4 linked regions of the Homo sapiens genome follow. The protein of the gene in region 3 purifies or fractionates together with the protein of the main gene of each other region. This does not show direct contact. Each region holds a gene or a part of one and is shown on either strand. Other genes may lie near its edges. The genes, in order: CBR1, HEATR6, PRKAB1 and TRMT44.

Region 1 (7,834 bases), on a different chromosome or scaffold from region 3:
TGAGTGCGTAGGTTGCTCAATTAGTAGTACATTAGTGAGTGCTAATTGATAAGAGATCATTTTTTTTCTTATATAAGGATATTTATGACATTGTAAATGCCCTTTGGACCAACTCAGGACAAGGTACAAAATGGGGCCCATGGATGGAGCTGTGAGCCCAGCTCACCACTGTTCAACTCTCTTCTCTGAAACAAATTGTCCATGGGGACCCTCAGCATCTGGGGGCAAAAGGGCCAAGTACACAGGGGTCTCTGCACCTTCTTCTGGGCTCTTGGTGGCCTTGGGTCCCGCCATGTCAGTTCTCACCCACCCTGGGCAGCAGGCATTCAGGAGGATCTTGTCCCCTTTCCTCTGCTCACTCAGTTTCCTGGCGTGGATCCTGGACAGAACGGTGACGCCAATCTTCGTCACCCCGTATGCGCTGCTGGGCCAGCCCTCCTTCTGGTGCACTCCCTTCTTTGTATCCTCCACAAACTTGTTCATGAGCCCCACCAGCTCCTCCTCAGTGATGGTCTCACTGCGGAACTTCTGCTGCAGCTCTGGGCTGCAGCTTTTAAGGGCTCTGACGCTCATGATGCTAGATACGTTCACCACTCTCCCTAAGATACACCACAAAGCATTATGTAGAAAGGTGTGCAACAATCCCGTAGAGAGGTGAATGCCAAATTTGCAGGGATTTTGGAGCAGAAAATTTTCATATGAGAGACAGTTACTGGTATGAGTTCTAAGAGGAATACGCATAGAAAGTGTGGTGGTAGTTGCATGAAGAAGTTCATTCCTGCCTTCGAATTTTGGCTGAGTAGAGTCAGGTGAGATTTGGAAGAGCTGCCCTTTGAGGTCCTGGTGAACCAGAGCCTTAGAAGTAGCACAACTTAACAGGACGACAGGACAGGGAAACAGGATAAAAGCTGAGAGTAAGCTGTACATGCAAGTACCCAACTCGAAGCCACACATTTAAATTTTTCTAAAAGTGGCTGCTTAATTGCTGTGTTATTTAATGGGTGGGTTCATCTCCTGTCCCATTACTTAGGGTAACTATCACAGCAGTTTACAACCAAAGACATGTGATAGTCATGTCCAGCACCTTCAGCACGTTGAAGGGGAGTTAAAATGGGCCCAGAGTTAAGCAGCGGCAGATTATGGACATCTCTGTGAACCATGCTAAGGGCTTGGACTTTCCTCCTGAAGGATTTTGGGAGAGGCATGACCATGCAGACAGTACGCAGGATGCTGGGAAAGGAAAAGAGGAAAAGACTCAAGACCAGAGGTGCCTTGTGAGGGTTTGCAATTGTCCAGAGGGACAGGTGAGGGCCTGCTGTAGAGCTGCAATGAGACGGATTCAGGAGGAACTCAGTGGGCACAACTCCTAGGACCTAGTAAATGATTATGAGGGGTGGGGCATGGTGACCTGCAGGATCCTGGTGGGTGGGTGGTGGGGTCTGTGTCCCAAACGACTTAGGGAAAAGGATAGGGATCCTCTGGAAATATCTTAGATTGTGGGGAAAGGCATCAGGAAGAGATGGAAAGGCAGCAAGACAACCATGTGGTTGGGAGCTTAAGGAGTGTTTCAGACAGGTGACAGGTATTAGAAGGGCCTAATGAACTGGTGGTAGTAAAGCCTCCACCAGCCTGAATAAGATCTCTCTGAAAGAGCAGAGAAAGGGTACAGGATGGACTCCCACGCAGAGGGGAATGGAGCAAATAAAGAGCATCTCTCAGGAGACGTTTGAGCTAAGACCTGAAGGATGAGAGTCAGCCAGGTGTGCAAAGACCAGTGCGACAGGGAGGACGAATGGCCATGGGAGTGGGAGAAGTGAGGACAAAGTCCTGAGGCAAAATGGCACATATCAGCTGGCAGGAGAAAAAGCACAGAGGTCAGTGCACGTGCAGCATGGAGAGGAAGCAGGAGCCTGCAGGAGAAATCCCAGGCAAGCAGGGGCCAAATCAAGCCCCAAAGAGAAGGTGCGCTGTTTCCCATCAGACTCACCTTGGGGTTTTATTAGAGGGAGTAATTCTGTGCACACATCTCGGGTACCAAAGAAATTTGTTTTCATCGTCACTTCAGCTTGAATATGAAAGGGTGTGGGATCAGCAACTTTTAGGAGAGAAAGAGAACATAGTTAATACATTGTACCCATGGGGTAAAATTCTATACAATGATACTAAAAAAAAAAAAAAAAAAAAAAAAAAACTTAGTGCCCTCTGCCTAAAGTAAGTCTGTATCTGGTTACAGTATTGTGCCAATGTCAATCTCCTGGTTTGATCATGTTCTAGTATTTTTGTAAGATGGCACCATTGGGGGAAGGAGGATGAAGGGTGCACACACTGGATCTTGGCATAACCATTTTTTCTTTTTGCAATTTGTCGTTTATTTTAAAATCAGTTCAAAATCCATCCAGTTGCCTTAAAGCTCAATTCAGAAAAACTGCAGAAAACCTGAAAAAGATCCCCAAGAGTCCCAGCCAGGGAAACACAAAGTTCCCTTTGGCTGGAAAACTCTCACTTTCTCCAAGGTTTCTGCACTCCCTGCATCTCCTAGCTCCTCCCTCTCCTCCCTAGGGAGGCGTTATGGACCCCGCAGACGCCAGGAGCCCCAGTGCATCGGTTCTTCTTCGGGGAGGCCACGTCCCCTCCCCATACCCTTGAAGGCGATGCCCGCGTTGTTGACCAGCACGTCCAGGCCCCCGTACTCCTTGCGCAGGAAGTCGCGCAGGGCGCGGATGCTCTGCAGATCGTCGATGTCCAGCTGGTGGAAGCGCGGGCTCAGGCCCTCCGCCTGCAGCTGCTGTACGGCCGCCTGGCCCCGCGTCACGTCCCGCGCCGTGAGCACCACGTCCCCCGAGAACAGCCGGCACAGGTCGCGCACGATGGCCAAGCCGATGCCCTTGTTGCCTCCAGTCACCAGCGCTACATGGATGCCGGACGACATGGCTGAACGGGGCGCGCGGAACACCTGCGTGGAGAACAGACCTGGCTCAGGCCCGGGAGCCCCGCAGCGTGTTCCAGAGACTGCTCGAGTCTGGCGGTCGTGGGCGCGCACCCGTGGGTTACACGCCCGGCCGCTGAGCGCGCAGGCGCAGGCCCCGCCCTAGCGGGGCGGGGCTGAACCATCCCTACCCCTCCCCACCGGAACCTCGCCGGGGTGCGGAGCAGGCGGAGAGCCAGCTAGCCTGACTTTGCAGAACCCGCAGGCCGAAGACCGAGGCTGGTCTCTAGCTACTGGCTGTTGGCTGCCCACGTGGCAGTGAAGAACCATTCCTAGTGGCCATGTGCCTAGATCTGAACTCACTGCTTGCCCTTGGTTCTCTGAGGGGTTTTCTTCATATTCTCCCAGCTGTTCAATCATTCCTAGTTGTGTTTGAAGAAATAGTACATTTGCATGGTTTTTTTTTCTTTTTTTCCTGGTGTTCTAAAAAAAAAAATACTGCAGGAACTGCAGTCTTTGGAGCTAGAGTTGCAGAAGAAACTGGAAGGAAATAACAGGGCATCAAGTTTTTGTTGATTTTCCCCCTAAGTATATGAAAACAAAGCTACTGACTTAGCCAGATTTTCCAATAATGGTGGGAAACATTCACTAAATCTTTATAAGGTTACTTCTCTGGGCATTTGCAGGGCCATCAGTTTATCTGTGCATAGGTGTAGGGGGTTTCACAGCCCTATTTTACACGGACAATAACACTCTAGGATGTACCTTTTAATCCCCATCTTAAAATGAAGAAACAGGGATCCATCCTCAGAATTTATAACTTAGTTCAGTGGTGGGAAATTGTTAGAGAAATGCCAGGAGTTTGGTCTAGGTCTGGTGGTTCACAGCACAGAAAGCCAGTCACTGAGACCCCATTATTGTCAGGGAAGAAGGCATTATTTGGGTGCTACAGCCTAGGGGGGAGAGATCAGTCTCAAATCCATCTTCTCAACTGATTAAAATTAGGATATAGCAGGGAAGAAATGTAACTGCATGTGGGAAAATAGCAGGAGTTAGGGAGAGATGAAGAGGAGTGGGTCAACAGGCATCAGGCAATTGTTGCAGGTGAGGGGTCTGGTGTCTGATTTTCCAGATGTGGTGATCCGATAAGTTTCAGTTCCTTGGTGCTATCTGGGAGGACTGATGGCTAGTTCCCTGAGAAAGGAACTCAGATAAGACAAATGTAAATTTCTCAAGTTTTTAGACTGGGAGGGTCAATTTGTTTATTCAAAAGAGACCAGGCCTGGCGCGGTGGCTCACGCCTGTAATCTCAGCACTTTGGGAGGCTGAGGTGGGTGGATCATGAGGTCAGGAGTTCAAGACCAGCCTGGCCAAGATGGTGAAACCCCATCTCTACTAAAAAAAAAAAAAAAAAAAAAAAATACAAAAATTAGCTGGGTGTGGTGGCAGGCGCCTGTAATCCCAGCTACTTGGGAGGCTGAAGCAGAGAATTGCTTGCTTGAACCCCAGAGGCGGAGGTTGCAGCGAGCCGAGATCATGCCACTGCACTCCAGCCTGGGCAACAGAGTGACTCCCTCTCAAAAAAAAAAAAAAGGAAAAAAAAAGAGACCATAAACATCTGTCCTATGGGACAATTGCATGGTTTCAAAGTGAGTGTTCCTCCTTCCTACTTACAAGGGAATTGGGAATAAGGTCAAGTTTCATTTCTGTGCTGTCCCATAGGTTGCCACTATCACAGGTGGCCATTTAAACATAAATTCAAATTAAGCAAAATTTGTAATTCAGTTTTTTAGTTGCACTAGCCACATCTCCAGTGCTCAATATGTGCATGTGTTAGTGGTCACTGTATTGGGCAGTACAGATTTAGGATATTTCCATCCTTGCAGAAAGGTCTGTTGAACACCACTGCTTTAAATAGATTGCAATTACATTGCAATTTCAAGGTAGGTTTCCAATCAGTTGCTTTAAAACAAGTTAATAATCAAGGAAAGACCCTTGCTTTTTTTCAACTGAAATTTTTGTCGAGCTAATTATAGAGTCACATGCAGTTGTAAGAAATAATACAGAGATTCCTTACCCTTTACTCAGTTTCACTCAATAGTAACATATTGCAAAAGTATAGTACAACATCACAGTGAAGATATTGACAACAAAACAGTCCACCAATCATACTCAGATTTCCCCAGTTTGATGTGTACTTTGTGTATGTATTTAGTCCTATATAATTTTATCAAATGTTGGTTTGTGTATCCACCACTATAGTTAAATGAAAATGTTTCTATTAGCACAAAGAGCCCTCCTGTTGCACTTTTATCACCAAACATACCTCTCTGTTACTCCCCAAACCAACTCTAATTCATGGCAACCACTAATCTGTTCACCATTTCTACAAGTTTGTTGTTTCAAAAATGTTACATAGATGGAGTCATACAGTTTGTAGTATTTTGTTTTTGGTTTTTTTTTTTCCACTCAGGATAATTCAGAGCTCTGTTTTGGATTTTCTTTCCTATCCCAGTGTGTGCGTGTTGGGTCTGTCATTGGCTGGGTTCTCTCCACTGCACTAGCTACTGTCTTCTGTAGCTGGTGTGAGTTAGTGTTAGAGTGGATGGATTAAATTTATTAAGAGGGCCAGTCAGCAATAGCACATGGTGTACAGGGAACTTTGGACAGGGTGAGGGTCCTGCTGTTTCAAAAGGCAAATCCTATGAGGACTATGAATCATGAGTTTGAGTCTGATTTATTTTTTTAGGACTGGAACCAACATAAGAATTGACAGGTACATTAGGCAGGATGCTCCGGAAAATATATAAAATATATATTAACAAGAATTTACTGTATGATAAAGGTGGTTTAACAACTAGTGAGGGAAAGAATTATTCCAAAATTAGCACTGGGGAAAGGGCATAATGATTGGAAAGAAAAAAGATCCCTTACAACATACACTAAATAATTTCCGAAGAGAGAGAAACAGTGATTTATAAATGAATCCATAAAACAACTAAAAGAAAACAAAAGTAAAAGTTTTATTTTCAGTAGGGGAAAATGCTTTCTTTTATAAGCATAAAAATAGGGGAAGAATCATAAATGTCTGATGGGTTTGACTATGGGAAACTTTTTGAAAATTTGTTTTTGAAAAGCATAATTTAAAGCCTGTGAATTAAGCTCTACTTGGATGGTTTTGTATTGTTGTCTCTCTTACATCTGGGTCTTGATTCTGGTGGTATGTGTGAAGAGCCTCCAATATGTAGCACCTTGTCTGGATTCTGAACAATTTAAGAAATAAAACAGAAATTTAAAGATGGAGTTTCCAGATCTCTGCTATTACTGCTATTGGCTAAATTGGAAGACATGCCTTAGTTGTGAGAATCAAAGGTCTGAGACTATATTGGATGCTATATAGATAAAGAATTTTATCACATCAATTAACCTGTGGAATGAATTCATATCTTTACTACCCACTGTTTTTTTTTTAATGGAACGCTTCATGAATTTGCATGTCATCCTTGCCCAGGCACCATGCTAAATCTTGTCTGTATCATTCCGGTTTTAGTATATGTGCTGCCCAAACGAGCACTACTACCCACTAGTTTAAAGCAACTAAAGAACATAGTTCCCACAAAAAAGAATGGAATCATTTCCTTTGCAGCAACATGGATGCAGCTGGAGGCTATTGTGCAAACGCAGAAACAGAAAACCAAATAACGCATGTTCTCCCTTATAAGTGGGAGCTAAACATTTGAGTACACAGGGACACAAAAGATGGTAACAATAACACCGGGGATTCCAAAAGGGGGAGGGAGGGGGTAAGGGTTGAAAAACGAACTATTGGGTACTATGTTTTCTACTTGGGAGCATTAGATGCCCAAACCTCAGCATCAGGCAATACACTGATGTAACAAACCTGCACATGTACCCCCGAATCTAAAAACAAAAACAAAAACAAAAAAGCCCAAAACACAGTTCCATGGTATATATTAAAAGAAAAGATGTTGGAAAATAATATTGTTAAATTATGAACTGTGAGGTTCTCCAGGTCGTTCCTTTGATTAGTTACCCTCACGGATCTGCTTGACACTGGCTGTGTTCCTCTTGCATTTTATGCTTGTTTAGGATATTCAATAAGCCTTTCTACAGCGGTAGACCATGGACTTTGAGACCTGGAATCAATCTGTGGCTTAGGTGCTTAGTAGTTATTTAACTCAAGCAATTTACTGAATTCTGTGAAAGATAAAGCCAGACACTAAGGTGGTAAGGACAGATTTTAGTCAATAATGAACTCCTGTAATAGGAAAGAGGGTCCAGTGGAAACAAACTTTCATTTGTACAGAGATGACTGTGCCTTTTAAAGGGAGAGTGAAGGATCAGGAAGTGGGAGGAGTTAGGGAAATGACAAATTGCCAAGGGTTGCTCAGTGGAAATGTTGGTTAGGCCAGCTGTGTCTGTTAGCTGGCAATTAGCAAAGTTGGGATTCTATTCTCCCACTATAAAGACTGAAAGACAGAGGCCGTATCATTTCTGATGATTACATTTCAGAGGAATGGCTTTCAGGTCCTTGAGAAAGACATTCTTTCTTTTTTTTTTTTTTTTGACACGGAGTTTCTCTCTTATCTCTCAGGCTGGAGTACAGTGGTGCGATCTCGGCTCACTGCAATCTCTGCCTCCCAGTTTCAAGAGATTCTCCTGCCTCAGCCTCTCGAGTAGCTGGGACTACAAGCGTGTGCTACCACGCACAGCTAACTTTTTGTATTTTTAGTCGACAAAGGGTTTCGCCATGTTGGCCAGGCTGGTCTCGAACTCCTGACCTCAGGTGATCCGCCTGCCTTCACCTCCCAAAGTGCTGGGATTACAGGCGTGAGCCACCACACCTGGCCAAGAAACACTCCTGGGTGGGAGATACATCTCAAAGGG
Region 2 (7,044 bases), on a different chromosome or scaffold from region 3:
ATGTGTGCCTCCTCAAACCTCATGCTGAAATGTGACCTCTAACACTGGAGGTGGGCCTAATAGGAAGTGTTTGGGTCATGGGGGTGGATCCCTCTTGAATGGCTTGGTGCTGTCCTTGTGGTAATGAGTGAACTCTCACTCTATGAGCTCATACGAGAGCTGGTTGTTTAAAAGAGCCTGGCATCTCCCTCTTGCTTACTCTCTTGCCATATGACATGCCTGCTCCCCCTTTGCCTTCCACCAGGATTTAAAGCTTCCTGGGGCTTCCTCAGAGGTAGATGCTGGCACCATGCTTTTTGTACAGCCTGCAGAACTGTGAGCCAGATAAACCTCTTTTGCATAAAAAACTAGGTTTTATGCAAAAGAAATATTAGTTTTACTATTGCTGGTTATATGTTATACATAAGCCTACCACAAACTAAACTGCAAATAAACTGAAATGTAAAATAAAACCAATTTATACTAGTTTCATGTTTTCCTGGATTATAAAACATAATTTTTGACACTGGAAGAAACCATATCATCTACTCCATTTATCACTGAGCTTCAAAATAAAACTGCAACTGAAGCATTAATAAAAGAAAACTATGAATTGACATTTATTTACCAAGAAGACTGGTGCTCTCTGATCAGGTGCTGCAGTGGAGTCTGGTTTATACTGCTGTATTAAGCCTGTGCCCAGTTCTTCCAGAAGCTGCCAAGAAAAAGAATTACCGAAGTGGAGCATCAGAACTAATGAATGACTTCACTTGAGTAACACCTTCACTCTAGTAACACCTTCACTCTAGTAACACCTCCACTCGAGTAACACCTTCACTCGAGTGACACCTTCACTCTAGTAACACCTTCACTTTAGTAACACCTTCACTTGAGTTTGGAGATCGCCTCAAATCAAGGGGAAACATAATTTGCAACTAATTTTCTTTCTTTTTTCAGTCACTGTTAACAGAGGCATTCTTTCAAGGACTGAAATCAACAGCTATATCTTATTAATTTGTTACTGAGTCAATGCGTGGGGTTTATATGTAAGAGCCGAAAACAGAAGAATGCATGTCCTCCTTACCTGAAATCTCTTTAAGAAATCTCAGAATTGAAGGACATGTGGCAGAAGAATATAAAGTGAAGAAAAGGAAGGATATAAAGTGAAGAAAAGGAAGGATATAAAGTGAAGAGAAGGAAAAAGCATTGTGGTTTTGATGAAAATTACCTTTGCTCCATGAAGCTGAATGGATGGATCTGCTTCCCCCATGCACTTGCAAATCACCTCTCCAAGCTCCATCAAGTAGGCTTGAGTCATTGAAAAGTAGCCCCTTGCCAGAAGAGTCAATACCTGCAAAGAGAGCATGGAATTAACCCTCTAAGACCTGAGTGCAAGGCTGCAATATCCAGAAAAGTGTTACAATATTTCAGAAATCGCTTACATTTAACAGGGGCTGAAATCTGTTGAATGAAATTAAGAACCATAATCTTTATTTTGTGACTAACATCAATAAACTGTATCATAGTTTTATGGTGCTTTAGTATATGATTGCTTTTCATTAACAGAATCTCATTTAAGTCTTGGAACTATTCTTTAAAGTAGGTATTAACTGAATTTTACAACTAAAGAACCTAAGCCTGACAAGATGAAAGGACATGCTTCATGCTGCCCAGTTAATCAGCAGCAGACCTCAGGACCAGGCCTAGTCTCAGATCATATTTGTATAGAAAAAGTAAACTCTTTTATCTAGGATTGTTTTCTTCCTTTGAAGGAACAATTATTTTGTTACTCTAAGCAGGTACAAGACCAAGGAAAAGCTTATAGAGAATTAAACATTTAAGTTGCAAAAATCAAAAATTAACTGTACAATTTCACTCAGAATTATTCTACAATCTATTACATCCACTTGTCATATAATACCTGAAGGGACTAAAATAATTTGCAATCAAAGAACAAAAAGGAATGAATCTGCTATTTTACAACCAAAGAACACCTCCCCAAAACAAAACAACAACAAAACAATACACCACCCATACCTAAAATACAATTCCCACGAACACAATTGACATATGGCTTGGTTTTACCTGCTCGCTCCTCACAGTCACTCTGAAGGAGGAATGGTTACTTCCATTTCAGAGATGAGGAAATGAAATCTCCTACCTGTAAGGCCTCCAGTCGCATGGGGGATGGTTCGTAGGTGCTTCCTGCTGCAGAGCCAGCATCGCTACCTGAACAGGAATCCTCCTTGGGCAGTACGACAATGGAAATGCAGAGTCGAATGAGCCAGCAGGGCTCTGAAGACCCCTTAGGTGAGCTAACTGACGTTTCTTCCAGAGAGGGTCCTGCAGGGGCTTTCTTCCACCAATCAGGAGGGCTGAGGTGAGGGGTTGCTGAATTGCTATTACCGAGTCCAGAAGAACATGGCTGTTGCAGAAGTAGTTGGACTTCAGGTAAAGGTGCGTGGGTGGACACTATAGCTCCCAAGAGTGTGAGACTTGACACACGAACATTAACATCTGTCAAAGGAAGCAGTAAGAACTTATCATCATGGCAACAACTACTGTAAAGATGGTAGTTATCCCAGCAGGCAATTAAAAATTAGTAGTTCCTTGTGTAACCTGAATCTAATCAAACTTCTAGACCTCATTTCCAGTTTGGAAATACATGGGACAGGAGAGTAAGTTAACACCATAAAGAAACAATCTGACAAATTGAGAATGTGATTTATTTTGTTATCTTTGGTGACAGAGCTTAGAGTTCACATTCTATAAGACAATTGGGTTGGATTCTTTCCTAAGTCAGTTTGATATAAAAAAGATGGGTGGGGGGACTCTACATTTAAAAAGACTACAGTGACATAATAACTAAATGCAATGCATGTACCTTGAATGAACCCCGGATTTTAACAAGAAATATTTTTAAAAAGCTAAAAGGTCTGTGTCTAGACTCATTTTTTTTTTTGCATGTGATGTCCAGCTGTTCCAGCACCAATTGTTGAAAAGTATCTGCTCCTTTGTTGTAGATCAGTTGACTATATTTATGTGGGTCTATTTCTGGGCTCTCTATTCTGTTCCATTGATCTGTTTGTCTCTTCCTTGGCCAGTATCACACTGTCTTAATTACTGTAGTTTTATAGTAGATTTTGAGGTCAGGGAATGTCAGTCCTTCAGTTTTGTTCTTCTCTATCAATATTGTGTTGGCTATTCCAGGTCTTTTGCATATCCATATATATTTCAGAATCAGTTCATTGATATCTGCAAAATAACTTGCTGGAATTTTGATTGAGACTGCACTGAATCTATAGATCAAGTTGGGAAGAAGTAACATCTTCACAATATTGAGCCTTCCTATCCAGGAATATGGAATCTCTGTCCATTCATTTAGTTCTTTATTTGATCAGAGTTTCACAGTTTTCTTCATATAGATCTTGTACATATTTTGTTAGGCTCATACCTAAGAATTTCAGGGTTTGAACATTTTAATGAAAAAAAGTTACTTGAGGATAAAGTCAGATACTTGAAAGGAAACTTTGAGGCATGGTGCACTCTCCTCAGCTGAAGATGCAGATAATGAAAAGTTGGTACAGTGGAATGAGCAGGGGTTGTTCTCATCTTATTTCTGCCATGAATGTGATGGGAAACCTTAGGGTAAGACTTATCTTTCTGGGTCCCTTTTTTACATATTAGTGTAAGTAGTGAACTGGACTTAGTTACATCTCATTATCTCATTTGAGCCTCATAAAAATCTTATGATGTAGTTATAATTCTTGCTGTTAGGAAGAAATTAGGGTTCAGAGAGGGTCATGGCCATGAGATGGCAAAAATGGGAGTGGGATCCAGACCCTTGGATTGACTTCAGGTCCCATGCTCTTCCCACTATGTCACAGAAAACATCCACTATTCCTTCCTTGTTACAATTCTGCCTGAAAAACTGAACTCATCAGAATGTGGTCCGATCTGAAAGCTTGCAAACAAAAGAAAGGCAAATCTACAAAAGGCAAGTGTTTATAGCACAAATACATTATGTGTAGGAGGAAATAATAAGACTGCACTTAGTAAAGATTTGAAGTTCTGGGGTTTTATCTGAACTTCATAGGAAATAACAATAAAGAAGTTAAATTTTGTATTCCAGTTTTTCTTTCCAAAAAGTAGATAATATCTATCTGTCCGTCTGTCTGTCTATCTAACCATCCATCCATCCTCTACCTATGTGTAAGGGATATAAACAATCATACTCCTCAGGGGGGCTGCTTGCACCTGGCTCAATCTTAATTCTAAAGGGATACTCTGGTCACTGCCCTGAGCATTAAACAGGCAAACTTTACAATTAATCCTCTAGCTCACTTCCACTGGGACTTGAGGGGTCAATTCTTGCAACAGCTTATACCCCTGAAAAGTTGAGAAGAATAAGCAGAGATCTCTTAAGAGTTGTAAAAATGCTTTGAATATATACATATATCTATATCTGTATATTTTTACTAATAGTCTGCATCTGACTGATACAAAGAAGCCATCAGTTTTAAGCCACTACAAACCTTTGTGGCGAATATAAGGCTTTATCTGGTTCCAGACTTTGGTCAGCAGGCTGAGTTTTAGACGATCATAAGGTGCATTTGATACTAAATTTGCAAGGCACTGTAAAACACAAAAAGTAGCTCATCAAAAGGCTTGATTAAACCACAGCATAGAACAAATTTTGCAGCATTTAATTAAAAAAGAAAAGTTTTCACACAACTAAAAATTAGCCCCCCTTTTTTTTAATAACACTTGTATTCTCATTGGTACAACTAAAGATAAAGAAGTATTTTTAGCAAATCATTTATTGGGACATACAGAGATTATAGATAAGATCAGACGAGTAGGTACAGACTTCCAAATAGTGTATTTTTAATAAAACTATTACTTAGTTATATTCTTAAGTCAAGTTACTTTTGAGCTATGTAAAACAGTATACAAAATTAAAACAGAGAAGCCTGCTCTGGAACCCACAGTTGGTACATTACCTTAATTATCTGAGTAACGGTCTGTGAGGATGACTCCGCCACCAAAGCTAACAAAAGACATCTGTGCAACTCTCTAATGCTGCAAGCGATCATTACGGAGAAGGGGGTAAAAGCCCTTCTGTGGTCACTGGTATCTTCAGCAACAGAAAGAAACTGCTTTGAGCCTTCCAAGATGGCAGATAAAACTTGCAGAGCACAGGCACGTGTCTGAAATTTCGGGATGATTCACATTGATTAGTTGAAAATTAGGAGTCAGATTCCCTTCTTCCTATACATATTTAATGTTCAAAGTATTTACAATCATTTTAATTGGAAGAATAAAGGCAATGGGATTATCTGTTAGTTCCTAAAAACTAGGCCACTTGCGTCCCACACCTAAAAAAAAATCTTTATTTTATTTTTATTTTAGAGACACAGTCTCGCTCTGTCACCTAGGCTGCAGTGCAGTGGCGCAATCATAACTCACTGCAGCCTCAAACTCCTGGGCTCAAGCAATCCTCCCACGTCAGCCTCCCAAGTAGCTAGGACTACATGTGTGCCACCACACCTGGCTAAAAAAAAATCTAGAAACCCATTGCTGTTAGGTGTTTTACAGTAAGAAATAAATCTAAGCTACACCATAGCACAAAAATCTGAAATCCTAAGCATGAGAATAAGAATTAGAGGCCTGGTTTATTCAAGCAGAATGCCAACTGAAAAGTTAGAACTAAACAGCCCATGGGGTAGAAAAAACACATGTGCCTAGAGTCTGTTTCCTATTAAAGTTCCTGAGAACATTATGCCTCATATTCCACTCTGAAGTATGTGTGTTCAATGTTAACTTAAATAGGACTTTAGGAACTTTGTGTACATACTGCTTGGCAGACATCATTAGTGATCCAACTTTCAGAAACAGTCTTAGGTACAGGAAATAACACTGCCTGCAGTGACAGTATTTGACAATTCAAAAAAGGAATACCATTAAGTACAATCTTATGAATGGAAAGGACAAAAAGAACATCTTTGTCATGGACTGCTGTATTTGTTAGGAAAGGTGTCACTGGCACCAAGATTTTCTTTATAAGGTTGAAAGATTACTTTCAATTGGTACTCAGATGATTTTGTAGTATTAGAAAGGAAAAGAAAGCCCAACTTTACAAAAATGGGATATAGGTAATAAGCATAGGACTATTAATACGGAATAATATTGTACTCTCTTAGGCCAGCTCATCCAAAAATGATAATTAACATTTTCAGTCAAAAAATTTAAAAGCAGGGAACCAACATTACAATTCTAGAATCTAACCTAAATAGTTACTCAATATGAAGCATATCTGAGTTTGGAGCAAAAAAGGTTTTCCCAAAAGCCTTCAATTATATTATCTCCAAACAACCAGGTAATAAATCACCAGGCAGGCCTTTTATAGAGTGGAGTCGTAGAAATCTAGACTTATTGCTCTGAAGAGAAATTTGAAGTACAGTAGCATCAGACTTCAGAATTAAGCATAATCCCCTAAGGTGGGAAATTGACAATGTATTAGGAAACCGTGTGTATATGTGTGAAAAAACGAGAGAGCGAGAGCATGAACACAAGTCAGCTGATCCAAAAAGGACTTAGATCAGGGGCTGGCAAACTTTTCTGTAAAGAGCCAGCAGTAAACATTTTATATTTTAGACTTTGTGGGCCAGTTTCTGTCACAACCACCCAACTCTGTGATTGTAGCATAGACATGTAAAGGAATAAACGTGGTTGCGTTCCAAAAAGACTTGATTTACGGACAATGCAATCTGAATTCCATATAATTTTCACATATCACGAGATATTATTGTTTTATTTTAAAACCATTTAAAAGTGTAAAAACCATTCTTAGCTAACAGGCTGTACAAAAACAGGTGGTGGGCCAGATTTGCCCTACGGGCCACAGCTGGCCAATCCCTACTAGAGGCTCGTCCGAACTCAACAAGATAGATCTTATGCTAAACCTTCATTTCTTTAGAAGACAATTAAAAATCACAATTCCAACAGCTCACAAACTGAATGAAATTAAAAATCGAATGGAAAGAAATGAACTAATGTTCCAAA
Region 3 (4,031 bases):
CAGTGGGTAGAGCTCATTAGCATGCTTTTCTGCTAAATTTAAAATGTTTCCTGATACCTGAGAAGGCTTAAAGGAACACCCATAACCTTCCACCTTTTTGGAGGAGGGACACGGCCTCTTTTAGTGGATGAAAACAGCTCTGACTCCACAACGTCCTGCTCTCTCACACGCCAGGGTCACGATCCCAGGCTGTCCCACCGGGCTTGTTTAGGAGCAAAAGGAAACAAACCCTCTGGCCTGGGGACACCAACAACTGGCCGAAGCCAGGAGCCTCTGCTGTTACCCCTCTTCAGCTTCCCCTTGTGACTTGAGCTGTTCAGAGGGGCTCAGTTTTAGGGGTCCCTTAAGGTTCCAAACTGTGTGAATGGGTGTGAGTCACAGGACTGGTTCTCAGGCCTGGGCAGCTGGAGTAGCCCTGTCCGCTCAGAGCCACAAGAACGGTACTGAAACGCAACTCTCGAAGAGTTCCAGTCTCTTCTCCAAGGGACTGAATAAAATCAGAGCTCCTCCAGGCACATGTCCAATTATTTTTACAAAGTTTTATTGAAACTTGTCCATCAAGGTGACAGTAATTCACTGTTTTGAAAAGTCACAAAAAAGGGTACCCCCAAACTCAGGTATACCAAGTAAATACTGGAACCCAGGGAGCTCACTCCTCCCTCTCCCACCAGGAGCAAAGGGCATAACGGGAGCTTCCGCTGACTCACAGCAACCTGGGCTAGTGGGTACATCTGTGGCGACTCCCGGGAAACTGAGCTGCGTATAAAGAAGTCTGCTTTGGTCCAAAGGACATCTTCCTGACCCAGACTCAGAAGGCTGCTGTCAAGTTCTACATTCCTTTCAGAATAAGCAACAGCAACTGCTGCAGTCTTGCTAACTAGGGGCAGAGGTCCTGAGCAAGGTGCCACGGGACCTTGTAAAATCACGCTGTGTGATTTTATAGGGAAGAGGGCAGAGTGCCTCTCAAGTTTTCACGGTTAACACTGTCACCTATTATGACTGGAATAAAAAGCTGGACAACCTGCCAGCTAACTGGTCAGTCCTGAGGATCATCCAGCTGAATGGAGAAATCCGGCAGCAGGTTGAAAAGTCTGTTCTGAGAACAGATTATTGCTGAGCAGAGTTCATGTGACTTCTAGACGTGGTGACTTAAAAAATGGCCTTAAGGCTGCAGAGCCAGCCACCTCTGCTTACAAAAAGAGTACTTAGTGCACATGACTGTAAGAAACAATTGTAAAACCTCATCTAGAAATCAGAAAGCTTCTAATTTCTATAGAAATGACACCTCCCTGGAGCCGAGAGACAATCTGTTGTTGATTTTGAAGGACAGGCAAGACCAACACTGTATTTAGTTCCATAGCCAGGCCTCAACAGGGACAAGTGGCTGGCCTTAAAAACACACAGATGACTGGAAATGATGTGTGGCCTCAGTCCCTGTTTCCCAGAATTTTACTGGCAAAGGAGTTAGCATTCATTTTTGGCTTAAGAAAAATCGAGAATGTAGGTTTAGAACTGCACCCAGCCTCATGCACCGCGGGGCCAGGGCTGCAGATCCTCTGCCACCCCTCCCTCTTTTCTTGGACTTGATGAGTCCCCGAGGCTCAAAGCCATGGGGGTGCTAGGAGGACTGTCACAGACCGAGGCGCTGCAGGAGCTGCTCTGCCTGGACAAACCTTCAAGCAGGACCAGGGCAGGTATGAAATGTCTTCTGAAGAGTGTGAAATGAGCAATGTACAGTCCATTCCCTCTTGGGGAAAGCATGCACGTGTGGAGCCTGGTGGTGTGCTGTCTCCTGGGCCACCATCCGCCCCCAGCTCTTCATATGGGCTTGTATAACAAGGTGGTGACGTACTTCTTCTTGTACCGGTGGGTTGCGCTGAGCACCATCACTCCATCCTAAGGAACAAGGTGGAAATGATCAAAGGCTGGACTAAGGGGCTCAAGCCTCAGAGGACATGAGAATCATTAAGGGCTTCATAAAACCACAAATTCCCGGGCCAGCTTCAGAACCTGAGCCTGATGGCCTGTGCCAGACCCTGGAAGCTGCCCTTTAAGTCAGTCCCGCCAGGTCATTCCACTGCTGGGGGTCCTCAGAGCACACACTGGGCAACACAGCTCTCATGGGGACAGACATGTCATTACCTTGATAGACAGCGCGTATAGGTGGTTCAGCATGACGTGATTGGGCTCAGGAAGCAAAGCTGGATCACACTGTGAGGGAACAAAGGCAGCGGTGAGCATTTGGGATTTGGAAACCAAGATTCTCCCCTTTACTTCCCAGTGCCAGATATCAAAGGACAGGAGGCAGCGCTCAGGCCGACCTCTCTTCCCAAATCAGGCAGCGCAAGGGCTTGTCCAAGACGACAGGTGAGATGAAGGTCACGCCTTCTGACCTGAAGGGAGCTCCCTGCATGCCTGCTGGAGGCATCGGTGTGTGTCTCTGGCCAGGCATTTACCCCGGCCTCTTTCAAGTGTGGGCCACGGCCCTGTCCTCTTATGGAGGGTGGGGCAGGAAGAAAGCAGCTATTAACAGCACTTTCAGAGAACACAGGAAGAGACCATCTGCACTAAACGCTCCTGAGCAATGGATTCAAAACTTGTATCTGTAAGACTCAATGAACCTGAAGAATGAAACGGATACCTGGGCAAGACACCACTACTCTGGAAAATCTGCCACCGGGCTGGCACTCAGAGCTGCCCGCCGCACCTTCCTATGTTTTAAGAGAAGCCAGAAATCGGGATTTATTTTTTCATTGTATACCCCCAACTGTTATAAATGCAATTCAAATGGAAAAAAGTGTAGAACAACTGCTGTAGGCTTAGGATCCCAGAGGCTGGGCCAATCATTGTGTCAACAAATACTCAGCAAGCTCCCGCTGGGAGGCCATTCAGGGTGGCTGCTGAGAGCACCAACTACCAAGGATCTGGCACCAGCCAAGCCTGATGTGACTGCTGGCTCAGCCAGTTGCTGTGTGAGCCTAAGAGGGGTTTTTAAAAAATTAATCAATTTCAAAGATTGACAGATAAAATTATGTATATTTACCATGTACAATATGTTGTTTTGAAATATGGACACATTGTGGAATGGCTAAATCAAGCTCATCAACACACGCAGAACATGCTTACCATGTTTTTGTGGTGAGAACACTTAAAAGCTACTTTTAGTGCACTGCTGATGGGCATGTAAATTAGTACAACCATTATGGAAAATGGCATGAAGGTTCCTAAAAAGTTATAACTAAAATTACCACATGGTCTAGCAATCCCACTACAGGGTAGATACTCCAAGGAAATGAAATCAGCATGTCGAGATATCTGTACTCCCACGTTCACTGCAGCTCTATTCATAATAGCCAAGACGTGGAATCAACGTAGGTGTCCACAATGGATGAATGGATAAAGAAATGAGGTACTGATACACAATGCAGTGCTGCTGAGCCTTACAAAAGGAATCTTGTCATCTGTGACAGCATGGATAAACCTGGAGGACATTAAGTGAAATGAGCCAGGCACAGAAAGACAAATCCCATGTGATGTCACTTATGTGGAATCCAAGAAAGTCGAACTCACAGAAGTAGAGAGTAGAGTGGTGGTTGCCAGCGGCTAGGAGTGGTGGGGGTAGGGAGATGCTGGTCAAAGAATACAACATTTCAGTTAGACAGGAGGAATACGTTCAAGAGATCCACTGTACAACACGGTGACTATTAGTAACAATGTATTCTTGAAAATCTCTAAGACAGTAGATTTTAAGTGTTCTCCCTACTGCTCTGTGCCTCAGTTTCCCCATCCCTAAAATGGGGGTAATAATTGCACCTACTTCACATGGTTGTTGTGAGGCTTGAATAAGAATACACGAAAAGCACTTAAGATTAGTTTGGGGCAAAATAAATGTTAACCCTTTAGTAGTGACAACTGTAACCACAGTTTACATTAGAGCTTAGTGCTACCTTGGACAGAGGGGTCCTGACATTCTCATATTCCCAGCCCCCTGGGCCACTCTCAGCTTGTCTATTCCCAGCAGCAGTCTCCAT
Region 4 (7,000 bases), on a different chromosome or scaffold from region 3:
TGTGGTTACTCCTAGGACGGGGAGGAAGATGGGAACTAGGAAGAATAGTAAGTAGCTTTGACTCTACCAGCAATGCCTTCTGCCTTAAGCTGGGCATAAACACACAGATGTATTGGGGGAACCCGCCCCCAATTCGGGGTCCCTGACTTCCCGCAACACAGATGTTTCTTGTTATACTGTTTTTACATCTTAGATAGAAAGTTTAAGCACATGTTATTATGAAATGTATCTCCTTTTGGGAACTGCTCTTTTGTATTTTAACTTTTCACATATTTTCTTAAAATATATTTAAGTTTATACAAAGAATTATGGTAATTTAGCCATTTTTTTTTTCAAGGTTCCATTACTTTTCAATTAAATATTTCCCTTTAGGTCTCTTGAAAACAAATAATATACAAGTAAAGATCAATCCTTTTCCATTATATATCTGTCTATGTTTTTGTTGTGTGCACCCCTAAGTATGTCAAAGTACAGCCTGCAACAGGAAAAACAATTTTACCTGGAAGAGTTTGATTATTTTACCTCATGTAAATTAAGGGTGAGCTGGACACGGTGGCTCACACCTGTAATCTTAGCACTTTGGGAGGCCAAGACCAGTCTGGGCAACATGGTGAAACCTCATCTCTAATAAAAATACAAAAAATTAGCCAGGCGTGGTGGCATGTTCCTGTAGTCCCAGCTAGTCCAGAGGCTGAGGCAGGAGAATCTCTTGAACCCGGGAGGCAGAGGTTGCAGTGAGCCAAGATCACACCACTTCACTCTGGCCCTTTTTTTTGGGGGGGTGACAGAACAAGACTGTCGCAAAAAAAAAAAAAAAAAAAAAAAAAGAAAAGAAAAGAAAAGAAAATCATGAAGGGGGAAAAATCAGATATTCTCCACCAGAATTACCTTAACCATTTCCTTATACTTCTCTTTAAGTTCCTGGTAAGCCTTGCTATACTTCATAATGGAGATGAGGGAAAGGGTGCTTTTAAAGTCACTCTTCTTGTTCTCTACAGACCACTTGGCCAACTTGGCCAGCAACTCTTCTCCAAGCCACGTGGGTTTGGGATACACGATTCCATCTGAATGCCATCTTTCTGGACAGAAAATTAAAACAGATATGAACCTTTAAAAATAAGAGAAATATGAATAAGCACAGATATGTTCAATTCTTATTTTAAAATTATCTATTTATTTACCTAATGAAGAAAACAGAAGCTAAGACATCTATATTACCAAAAACATAAAACGAACTAGAACTAGTTACAGAACTTTCATCTAATAGAGAAAAACATGTAAAAAGCACAGAGAATCCCTCTTTTCTTGCAAACTTTGTTAAGGATATATTTACACACTGCGAAGCCCCTGAGGCGGCTGAACAAATAAAGGCCTCTCTCCTGCTGCTTCATGCACAAGGAGCCAGAGTCTAAGCGTCCAAGGATTTTCCTAACATTTCTATTCTTTACCATTTTCACAGGTGCAACTCAAATGAGTATACTGGCTCACCGAATAGCTACTTGCCAGAAGGCGAAGTGCTCAGCCACAGAGATAAAGGCTGCTGTGCATTTTGCCGGCTTATTTTGTCTTTCACATGTCTTCTGCCATCAGAAGGTTCATGACAGTGGGGGGCTTCTGTCTGTCTTGCTCACTGCTCCGCCCCCAGGTCCCAGCAGTGCTGACACATAGCAGGCACTGTTCATGGATGCATTCAATAAATGAGGAAAAGCTCACAATCCTTGGGAGGACTGGCGGGACAGATACAAACCCAGATAACAATACACTGTCCAAGGGCTGCGTTTGGGGCAGCACAGGGAAGGGGAGGGCATTAAGTTTGCTGGGCAGATGAGAGAAAGCTACGATAAAAGTGACATTCAACGGACATTCCTAAGAACAAGCAGATCCCAGCCACTGGGTGAGCGGGGCAGAGCCGGAGGGCCTCACAAGTGTGCTGAGGGCGCGGCAGCAGCATGGCCCCACTGGAGGGGACAATGGCAAGTGGTCCGTCTGGTGAGAGCTGTGGTTTCCAGGTTTTCTGCCACCACGGTGCATTAGAGGGACACAAGTCACTTCCAGAAGATTCTCCAGAGAGTCAACCCCAAAGTGGGTCTGAACCTTTCCCCTGGCCCAGCTCCCTGCTCGGGACTGTGAGGTCTGTCCTGCTCAGTCCAGAAGCGTTCCTGCTGGGCCTGACACTAACTTTGGTGGCCCCTGCGCGCTGCAGAGATTCTGCCCAAGGGGCGTTCCTCGCTCTTCCCTGGGCCTCATGCTCTTCCCCAGGGTCCCCCAGAGGTCCATACGGCCTCCTCCTTCATCCGCCTCTCTTCCATGTCCCTTCTCAGAGGCCTTCCCACATACCTCGGCCACACTCTGCCGTTTCTATTGAGGGGACACAGTCCTGCTTGGCTGAGTTTTCCTCCCTACACCACCTAGTATGGGAGCAGATATTCTCCACTGCCCCAGGAGACTCACTTCCCGCTGCGTGCCAGCCCTAACACATGCTGGGCACACAACAAATGTTGCCGAAAATGAATCCAGCTGCGAAGAAGCACGCACATCGACAGTGGAGCCCCTCATTTGTGTTCAACTCAGAAGGCAGTACATCTGGCCCCTGAAGTGTGACCTGTGCCCAGAGACTGCAAGGAATAGCGGCCCGGTGAGGCTATGACTAGAAATGCCACCCTGGGAAGGTGGGGGCAGCAGCCACGTCCTCAGTAGCTCGTTAAAGAGCAGTGAACGTCACTCCGATGCCGACTAGAAATGCCACCCTGGGAAGATGGGAGCAGCAGCCACGTCCTCAGTAGCTTGTCAAAGAGCAATGAAAGTCACTCCAACGCAGCAGGCACATGCCAAGCACCTCCTGCAACCCCGCCCTGCACCAGGTGCCCACTGCCCCCAAGACAGGCACCACTTTCTGGCTAATGGGCACACAGTTCAGCATCGCCGAGCACAGAGGTGCCTGGCACAGGTAAGCATGGCTTCTCCTAGTGTCTGCTCTCACTCCTCACTCTCCAACAAGGGCATGCTAGCAGGAAGGGACCTCAGGGCAGGATCCCCTGACAACTCGGGGCAACCTCTGGATGGTTCTCAAAGGGCTTCATGCTACAGGGCCTGAGCACCCCTTTCAAGCACGAAGGCTGCAACAGATCCATGTGAGGCCCAGCCCTGCCACCTCCTCAGAGGCTCAGGAATGATTAAACCCATTTCAAGGTGAGTAGACAGAGGGCCAGGAGGTAGAGCACATCCCCAAGACCACACTGCTAGTGGGAAGCCCATGCTCTTCTCGCCACATCCCTCTGCTTTCTAGGAAGCCCCGGGCAAACTCATTCCAGTTACTCAGACATTATCCCCAAGACTGTTTCGGAAAGTACAGCTTGGATGTGGCACTCAGGAAAATATCAGCTGACAAGTCATGAATGAATTCACCCCTCCTCTGACTTTTTCGTTTTAAAAATACCAAACGGTATGAATTAAATTTTATACTTTCTATACAGGCCCAAATACCATATGGAATTAAGGGTGCTTATTAAACCGCTACTTTATAATAAGTATCACTGAATACTTACTACAGAAGGAACCATCACCTATTCCCCATTACTAAGTCATAAAAAATAACAAAATAGGCTGGGCTTGGTGGCTCATGCCTGAAATCTCAGCACTTTGGGAGGCCAAGGCAGGTGGATCACCTGAGGTCAGGAGTTTGATACCAGCCTGGCCAACATGGCGAAACCCCGTCTCTACTGAAAATACAAAAATTAGCCGGGTGTGGTGGTGGGTGCCTGTACTGTGCAGACTGAGGCACGAGAATCACTTAAATGCAGGAGGTAGAGGTTGCAGTGAAATGCGATGGCACCAATGCACTCCAGCCTGGGCAACAGTGTAAGACTGTCTCAATAATAATAATAACAATAACAATAAAGAAATTTGAGTTTGACTTCAGAGCTAATGCTAAGGGCTGCTGATCATCACAGCCACAGGGAAGGTAGAGATCAGAAACCCCAGCCAGGCTGTGACCACCCAGACTCGAGGCCAGGCACCAACAGGAAGAGCAACATGGCCTGGGCACATAAGCTAGCAACTGCATTCCTACAAACCATAACCACCTCAGAGACAGGACCTTAAGCCCTGGCAACCCAGAATCCTTTGGCTACCTAAAGAAATCCTCAATGGAAACCATAAAACTAGGAGTCCACTGTCCAGCTCTTACCATTCTTCTTTGCTATGACTGAGCTGAATTTGATACACATTGCTCATCTTAACCTTTAGGTTCCCCTCATCATCTTCTTCCAAAGGCAAAAACGTTATGGTTCCATTGAGGACATCTGGAAAGAAAAAGAGAAGAAGGACAAATTACAACTGCCTAGCTACCGTCTCATCAGAAGCAGTATTAAAAATAGGGATGAGTCAAGCACGATGCTTTCAATCCCCCAGCACTCTATTCACAATGGCACTCCAGGAGAGGAACTTTTGCCTTTCATTCACTGCTACAGCCCACAGCCTAGAATGTGCCAGGCATACAGCAGCCATTCTCTGCAAGTATCTGTTGAGAGATGCATGAGCCAGGACCTGAGGGAAGAGCCAGCCAATGTGGACTCTATTGGAACTTGAGAGCTACAATCAGAGAAAACAGGGGACCTCTGCCCTAACTGAGTGTCTGCCACAGCCTGACCATGATCTTCGAGTGTGAGCAAGGCACAGAACACTGCTCAGCCATCAGAGGCCAGTTCAGGAAAGCGGATATCAGTCCAGGCCTTCCTAACAACCGCTTTATGTTGTGTGGAGCCCTTGCTGCATGTACGGACTTCACAGTCACCTTCCCATTAAAATATAAGCAGAGTGGCATATTCCTAAGCTAAATTTACAGCATTCTGTCAGTTTGTGTGGATACTTAAGGTTTGGTTGTATAAAGTTCTATCTCTAAAATCAATCGTGTTTACCTTTGATATTAAAAAAAAATTGCAAACTCTGTTAAAGAGGAATATACACTTCACAGGCCAAATATGCACAACTGTGGTTCACCTTCCACAGCAGATGAAAGAACAAGACCTGCCAAAAGGAAGCAGAGGCTGAAGGGGCTAAGTGGATTCAGATGGAAAGCAAGCAGTGTGGGGCCGAGAAAACTCTAACAATCAGAGTCTACTGCTATGGAATACAGGGTGGCCAGGGAAGTCCTCCCTAGTTAGGTGACATTTGAGCAGAGAGCCGAAGGAGGTCAGGGAGTGTGCCATGGGGCACCTGGAAGAAGAGTGTTTCAGACACAGGAGCAGCAATTGCAAAGGCCCTAGGGCAGGCGTGTGCTCAGGTGCATGGGGAATGGAGGTGAGTGGCGTGGACAAGGTGACAAGTGGTAGAAGGTGAAATCAAAGGGTAACAGGGCCCACCCAGGTCACATAGGGCCTTGCAGTTCATAGAAGTACAGCTTTTACTGTGAGTGAGACCAGAGAGAAGAGGACTGACACAATGCATCATTCTTTCCATGAATTATCTCATTTAAAAACTGCAACAGGACCAGGCGTGATGGCCCATGCCTGTTGTCCCAGCACTTTGGAAGGCCAAGGTGCGAGGCTCACTTGAAACCAGGAGTTAGAGACCAGACTAAGAAACATAGTAAGACCCTATTTATACAAAAAATAAATAAAGTAAAATAAAGCTCACAACTTTATCATCCAGTATTATTTTCACCATCCTCTGGATCAGGGTTTCTTAGCCTCAGTGTCACTGGCATGTGTGGCTGGATAACTCCTTATTGTTGGGAGTTGTCCCGTGCACTGTAGCATGTTTATAAGAAGCCCTGGCCCCTACCCACTAGATGCCAGCAGCATCCTCTCCCTCCCTGCCCAGTGTGGCAACCCCAAATCTGCTGTCACTGTTGTCGCTACACAATGATAAATTTCGATTTTTAAAATTTTTAAATTTTTCATTTTTGTGGGTACATAGCAGGTATATATATTTACAGGGTACATGAAATGTTTTGATCCAGGCATGCAATGTGAACTAATCACATCATGGAGAATGGGGCATCCATCCCCTCAAACATTTATCCTTTGTGTTACAAACAATCCAATTACACTCTTTTCGTTATTTAAAAATGTACAATAGTGGCCGGGAGAGGTGGCTCACGCCCGTAACCCCGGCACTTTGGGAGGCCAAGGCAGGCGGATCACGTGAGGTCAGGAGTAGGAGACCAGTCTGGCCAACATGGTGAAACCCCATCTCTACGAAAAATACAAAAATTAGCTGGGCGTCGTGGCACATGCCTGTAATCCCAGCTGCTTGGGAGGCTAAGTTAGGAGAATCGCTCGAACCCAGGAGGCGGAGGTTGCAGTGAGCTGAAATCACACCACTGCACTCTAGCCTGGGCCACAGAGCGAGACTACTCTCAAAAAAAAAAAAAAAGTACAATTAAGTTATTATTCATTATAATCCCCCTGTTAGACTATCATATACTAGGTGTTATTCATATTCTATTTTTTTTGTACACTTTAACCATCCCACCTCTCCCCCAACCCTCCACTCCCCTTCCCACCCTCTGGTAACCATCCTTCCACTCTCTATGTCCACGAGTTCCATTGTTTTGATTTTTAAACCCCATAAATAAGTGAGAACATGTGATGTTTGAATGACAAACTTCTGAGGATCAAAACTGCCCCGACTGAAACCTCTGTTCTAGATGAGAAAACCAGGCGTTCAACAGATTAAGTAATCTGTCTCAAATCCACATAGCCTCAAACTGAATTCTGTTCTTTAACTAAAGAAGTCAAGTTCTTAACCACTATGTCATCCTGTCACCTGCTACTAACAGTTAAGATTTCTTAGTCACATTCCTTTTTTTTTTTTTTAGACTGAGTCCCCGTCTGCTGCCCAGGCTGGAATGCAGTGGCACAATCTTGGTTCACTGCAACCTCCACTCACCGGGTTCACGTCATTCTTCTGCCTCAGTCTCCTGAGTAGCTGGGATTACAGGCACCTGCCACTACGCCTGGCTAATTTTTTGTATTTTTAGTAGAGACGGGGTTTCACC

Evidence for each region.
Region 1: the proteins of PRKAB1 (region 3) and CBR1 purify together in Homo sapiens (co-immunoprecipitation; 2 studies listed by BioGRID and IntAct, with this or other methods). This does not show direct contact.
Region 2: the proteins of PRKAB1 (region 3) and HEATR6 purify together in Homo sapiens (affinity purification with mass spectrometry; 2 studies listed by BioGRID and IntAct, with this or other methods). This does not show direct contact.
Region 4: the proteins of PRKAB1 (region 3) and TRMT44 purify together in Homo sapiens (affinity purification with mass spectrometry; 2 studies listed by BioGRID and IntAct, with this or other methods). This does not show direct contact.

What each region holds. Positions count from the first base shown.
Region 1 is NC_000021.9:36,065,211-36,073,044, reverse strand, and holds the start of CBR1 (carbonyl reductase [NADPH] 1), read right to left. Parts: upstream 3,022-7,834; 5' UTR 2,930-3,021; coding exon 2,641-2,929; exon of another isoform or gene 2,560-2,640; intron 2,096-2,559; coding exon 1,988-2,095; intron 1,231-1,987; coding exon of another isoform or gene 1,106-1,230; exon of another isoform or gene 600-1,105; coding exon 163-599; 3' UTR 1-162. UniProt on the Homo sapiens protein: NADPH-dependent reductase with broad substrate specificity. Catalyzes the reduction of a wide variety of carbonyl compounds including quinones, prostaglandins, menadione, plus various xenobiotics.
Region 2 is NC_000017.11:60,054,908-60,061,951, forward strand, and holds part of HEATR6 (HEAT repeat-containing protein 6), read right to left. Parts: intron 5,190-7,044; coding exon 4,983-5,189; intron 4,615-4,982; coding exon 4,515-4,614; intron 2,497-4,514; coding exon 2,141-2,496; intron 1,331-2,140; coding exon 1,208-1,330; intron 695-1,207; coding exon 608-694; intron 1-607. UniProt on the Homo sapiens protein: Amplification-dependent oncogene.
Region 3 is NC_000012.12:119,678,113-119,682,143, reverse strand, and holds the end of PRKAB1 (5'-AMP-activated protein kinase subunit beta-1), read right to left. Parts: intron 2,212-4,031; coding exon 2,143-2,211; intron 1,897-2,142; coding exon 1,819-1,896; 3' UTR 525-1,818; downstream 1-524. UniProt on the Homo sapiens protein: Non-catalytic subunit of AMP-activated protein kinase (AMPK), an energy sensor protein kinase that plays a key role in regulating cellular energy metabolism.
Region 4 is NC_000004.12:8,443,777-8,450,776, reverse strand, and holds part of TRMT44 (probable tRNA (uracil-O(2)-)-methyltransferase), read right to left. Parts: intron 4,302-7,000; coding exon 4,187-4,301; intron 1,109-4,186; coding exon 889-1,108; intron 1-888. UniProt on the Homo sapiens protein: Probable adenosyl-L-methionine (AdoMet)-dependent tRNA (uracil-O(2)-)-methyltransferase.